2 separate regions of the Homo sapiens genome follow, and region 1 is linked to region 2. A link means that fine-mapping ties the variant in region 2 to the expression of a gene that starts in the linked region. Tissue or cell type: thyroid. Region 2 holds a variant in brackets; the other region holds the start of a gene. All regions are shown on one strand. Distances are from middle to middle.

Region 1 (2,764 bases), 21 kb before region 2:
AAGCATGGTGGTTGGGGGAGCTGTCAAAGTACTCCGGATAGACTCAGCGCCATTAAATAAGCTCAGGCATATACGGCCAGGAGCAAGGGAGGAGAGGAAACACTGAAACAACTCGGCAGAAAGCTGGCCCTTGCTATTAAAAAAAAAAAAGCACTAATTAATGAGGACGAATGAAATAGGGACACCCAGGGCTGGTAAAGGGGGTTGCTGCTTTAATATGCTGGACAGGCAGAGGGTAAACTCGGTTGTGGGTTAATTAGGTCTAACTCCAAGTCAAAGACCAGCTCCAGAGAAAAAGCAGCCTGGTTGAGAGTCTACCGGCTCAAATACACAGGAAGCCACACGATTCCAACTTGCGGCGCCAGCAGGACACTCGAGAGGAGGTGGCAGCACCGCCTGCTCGCCAGCGTCCAAGGCCAACCTCGGCAAACGTGCCCCGGCCATTCCGCACGAGCCCCGAACGCACACGCCGGGATTCCAATTCCGCGCGGGAGGAGCGACGGCAGGGAGGGCAGGGCCCAGCGCCGGCCGAGGAGCGGCTTTGTCAAAAGGCAGCTGGAAAGAACTGGCCCTGCACACGGCTGTCCCCTAAGGCGACCCTCGGGGTCAGGTCACTTCTCACGGGGCCAGCAGAGTCAGGAAGTCTGGAAACTAAGTGAAATGGGCTGGGGGGCGGCGGAGAGAAAGTGCAGAGACGCCAGGTTAATTCTCTGGTTTTGGGGGAAGGAAGGAGTTTGGTGGGGGAGCGACAAGGAATGCAGTAACCTACTTCACCCCCAGCCCCGCGGGTAGAGCCGGACTCCGCGGATGGCAGGCGGCGAGCCCGACTTCCTCCCGCGCTCCGTCCCCCCAGGCCCGGCCCGCCCCGTAGCCCTCGGCCCGGCCCGGCCCGCCCCGCAGCCCTCAGCCCGCCCCTGGCGCCTCGGGTCCCGCCGCCAGCCGGACGCGCTCCACTCACCCAGCTCCTCCGCCTGCAGCCGGAGCGGGGCGGAGACCGCGAGCAGCAAAGCCAGGAGGCCCCGCCCGGCAGCCCGCGCCAGTGCGCCGCCGCCGCGGGCGCCGGGCACCATGACCCCGCTGGGCGCCAGCTTGGCAAGCTCGGCCTCCCCTCGACGGATCCCGAGCCGCAGCTGCCCGGGCCGGGCCGCCTCCTCTGCGGACGAGCGCGGCGCCGGGACGGGGCGCAGTCGCTGCCCCGCACCGAATCCCATTGGGGCGGCTTTCAGCCCAGCCCTGCGGGGGCGTCTCCCGCCCGGCCCCGCCCCGCCCCGCACGTCGGCCCCTAGAGGAGGAAGTCGCGTTCCCAGGCAGTGACCGACGGCGAAGCCGGAGGCGAGCGAGGCGCCGCCCGCGCTCCCCTCCACGTATCTGGCGCGCCCTGCTGCGCTCCTTCCTTGCCTTCCTCCCCACCTGCACCAGTACACGTGAACCTGCTAGGCAGCAGGACACCTCGCCGCCGGACCCGCCCCTCGCCGCGTGGTGCGGGAGTCATTCCTAGATGGGCTGAGCCCGCGGCGGTGCCTTGGGAGGCTGCCCCCTCCAGGGTTTTGCCAGCCCGCGGGGATGGGCATGCCAGGGATAGCAACACCGAGGGACTCGAAATATTTTGATGATAGGATGATGACAGTGCCAAGTAGGACCTTCACTGATTTATTCACTCATTCATTCATTCATTCAAAAGTTACTCAGTTCAGCAGTGTGCTTGTCAGGAGCAGGGCTAAACCCATGTGGCACTTGCAGACAAAAATAATCAGGCAAGTATTCAATGCAAATTGCAATCAGTGACATGAAAGGTGCTGTTGAAGCACATTTAGAGAGCTGTAATTAGATGGCGGGTAACAGGGGTGAGGGCGGGAATCAGCTAGGAAAGGCCTAAGTGGCATCAAAGCTGAGATTAAAGCAGGAGCCAAAACAGACAAGTTGTGCAAAGAAGCTGAAGGAGGAAAGGGCCAGGTAGCTGGAGCACAGTGAACAGGTGGGTACACGGCCAGATGTAGAAGCTAGTGTACAGAGTAGGGGCCAGGACGTGCAGCTAAATAACCTAAAGGATGTTTAACTTGGTCCTCGGAGTAGTGAGCAGCCACGGAAGGTTCAGAAGGGGGAAGGACTCCACCCGATGATCCTCTTGAGGAGTTGCGGAGAAGGGTTTGGGGAGGACAGATTGGAGACTGGAGAATTACAGGGTTATCACCGAGTAGTTGAATAGGGTGGTGGCAGTGGAAAATGACGAGGACAGATTAGATATGTATTTTAAGGACTATCTCACGTCTCTGGTCCCCTGTAGTCCCCGTTTACTTCCTCTGCGCGCTGCCCTCACCTTCGCACCACCGCGCGGCACGCTGAAGTTTCACCTAGAGGTGCAGCGCAGGGAAGCGTGGAGGCGGAGAGGAAGCAACAGCCCCTCCAATGGCAAACATTGGCCCCTCGTGATCTTTGGATACCCTGGACAGACTCATTTCATACATGCGTTCCTTTTTTCCTCTTCCTTTTCTTTTTTTAACTAAATAAACAAGCTGATAAAATCTCAAATGAGATTGTCTTTGGGGCTTTGCTTTCTCTGAGGCAGCATATCTTAGATGAAAGAACTTGGGCTTTAGAAATGGAGGGGATCCCGGTTTGATTCTGGACCTCAGCTTTGTTGAAGAGCTGAGGTCCAGAATCAAACTGGGTATATATGTGTATATTCAGTGTATACTGAATTTGTATATTAAGTTCTATCATGTAGAGAAAGTACCTAACTGAATGTGTATATTGGGTTCTAGCA
Region 2 (2,764 bases):
AGCATCTATTTAACATTTATAGAACACTTCACCAACTAACAGCAGAACACATATTTGTTTTCAAGTGCTCACTTATGCTGCCTAGGAAATTTTTGGTCGGTTCATTGGAATTTTCTACATAATCAACTATGTCATCTACAAATAGAGACAGTCTTATTTTTTTATTTCTTCCTTTACATATGCTTTTCTTTTCTTTTCTTTTGCTTGTTTTGGTTATTTTTTTCCTTGCCTGCTTTGTTTTTGTTTTTGCATTACTGAACTGACTGGAACTTCCAGCACTCTGTTGAATAAGAACAGTAAGAGGAGAACACATCCTTATCTCGTACCCAATCTTAGGAAAAAAGCATCATGCTTTCACCATTAGGTATAATGTTAGCTATAGATTTTTTTGTGGATTTTTTTTATCAAGTTGAGAATGTTCCCTTTTATGTTCCCTTTTATATCTATTTTTCTGAAAGTTTTTTTCATTAGTGGCTGCTGAATTTTGTCAAATGTGTGTCCTGCATCAAATAATATGACCATGTAAATTTTGTTTTTCTTAAGTCTGTTGATATGGTGAACTATACTGATTAATTTTCAAATATTGAACCAGCCTTGCATCCCTGGAATAAACATAGTTATGGTGTACATTTTTTATATATTGCTGAATTCTATTTGCTAATATTTTGTTAAGGATTTTTGTGTATATAGTCATGAGAAATATTGGCCTGAAAGTTGTTTCTTCTGTTTTGTTTTATATTGTCTGTTTTGGTATGAGAGAAAAATTAGCTTTATAAAATGAATTGGAAAGCGTTCCCTCCTTTTCTCCAAAGGTTGTGTATAATTGATGTTACTTCTTCTTTAAATATTTGGTAGCATTCTCCAGTGAAATCTTCTGGGCCTACTGACTTCTTTTTGAAAGCTTTAAAATTATAAATTCAATTTTCTTAATAGCTAAAGGGCTATTTAACTTATCTTTTTCACATTGGGTAAATTGTAGTAATTCTTGTTTTCCAAGGAAGTGGTTCACTACATCTAAGTTGTCAAATTTATGTGTGTAGAGTTGTTTATAGTAATGTATTTCATCATTTTCCTGTTGAGGTCTGCAAAATCTGTAATGATATCCCTTGTTTTATATATTGATG[T/C]TGGTAATCTATATATTCTCTCTATTCTTTCTGTCAGTCTTGCTGAAGGTTTGTCAATTTTGTTGATTTTCTCAAAGATCCAAATCTATTTTACCTATTTTTTCCATTGTTTTTCTGTCTTTAATTTTTTTTTTCCTTTTTTTGAGATGGAGTCTCACATTTGTCACCCGGGCTGGAGTGCAGTGGTGTGATCTCGGCTCACTGCAACCTCTACCTCCTCGGTTCAAGGGATTCTCCTGCCTCAGTCTCCTGAGTAACTGGGATTACAGGCGCCCACCACCACACCCAGCTAATTTTTGTACTTTTAGTAGAGACGAGGTTTCGCCATGTTGGCCAGGCTGGTCTTGAACTCCTGACCTTAGATGATCCACCTGCCTCGGCCTCCCAAAGTGCTGGGATTACAGGCATGAGCCACCACGCCTGGCCTTCTGTTTTTAATTTCATTGACTTCTGTTCTTATCTTTATTCTTTTCTTCTTTCTATTTGCTTTAGTTTTAGTTTGCTCCTCTTTTTCTAAGTTCTTGAGATATTTCTGCTATTGATTTTTAGTTTGATTTCATGGTGGTCAGAAAACACATTCTGTATGACTTCAATTATTTAAAGTGATTGAAGTTTGTTTTATGGCCCAGGATATGGTCTATGTTGGTGTACGTATTGTGAGCAAAACAAAAACAAAAACAAACAAGAACCTTAACAAACACAATTTATCCAAAAATTAACTCAAAATGGATTATATCTTCAGTGTTAAAACTATGAAATTTTAGAAAAAAACATGGGAGAAAATCTTCAGTGTCTAGGGCTAGGTAGAAATTCCTAGACTTGTTACTTAAAATGCACAATCCATAAAAGGAAAAGTTGATAAATGGAACTATGTAAAAATTTTAAAAATTTGCTCTGCAAAAAAAAAAAAAAAAGCCTAAGAGGATAAAAAAACATGTTACAGCATGGAAAACATATTTTCCAACCACATATCTGACAAAGGACTCGTACCTGAGCATATAATGAACTCTCAATATTCAACAGTAAAAAAACCGAGCAATCCCATTAGAAAATGGGAAGAAGACACGAAGAAACATATGACATAAGAGGATATATGGATGGTAAACAAGAACATGTAAAGATGCCGAACATCATTATAGCTTAGGGAAGTGCAAGTTAAGACTATATGTTATCAGTAATACTTATCATAATGACTAAAATAAAATGGTGACAACACCTAATACTGGTGAAGACAGAGAAACTGATGCTCATTCATTCCTGGTGGGATTATAAAATGGTACAGCCACTCTGGAAAATAATTTGGCAGTTTCTTAAAATACTAAACATGCAACTCTATACAAACCGGCAATCACACTCATAAGTGTTTATCACAGAGAAAGGAATACTTATATTCACATAAAAACCTGTACGCAAATGTTTATAGCAGCTTTATTCATAATATCCAAATTCTGGAAACAATTCAGATGTCTTTCAATGAATGAATGAGTGGTTAAACAGTGCCACATGCATATCATGGAATACTGCTCAGCAAAAAAAGCAAGAAGCTATTGATACATACATCAGCTTGAGTAAATTGCCAATTCATTCCATATTGTGCTGAGTGAAAAAAGCCAATAACGAAACATCATGTGCTATATGAT

The links. PIP is the estimated chance that this variant, and not a neighbour inherited with it, causes the effect.
Region 1: DCBLD1 starts here. The variant in region 2 is fine-mapped to the expression of DCBLD1 in thyroid (GTEx, PIP above 0.99).

What each region holds. Positions count from the first base shown.
Region 1 is chr6:117,481,088-117,483,851 of GRCh38, reverse strand. It overlaps DCBLD1 (discoidin, CUB and LCCL domain containing 1), which reads right to left and starts at 1,178. Exons shown (of 15, transcript NM_001366458.2): 1 at 959-1,178. The coding sequence starts at 1,070. RefSeq lists enhancers at 143-192, 223-272, 283-362 and a silencer at 723-1,302.
Region 2 is chr6:117,459,832-117,462,595 of GRCh38, reverse strand. No RefSeq gene overlaps it. Among named protein-coding and RNA genes, the nearest start is that of DCBLD1, 21 kb to the left of the region's middle. The variant T/C (reference allele first, on the strand shown) is at 1,125.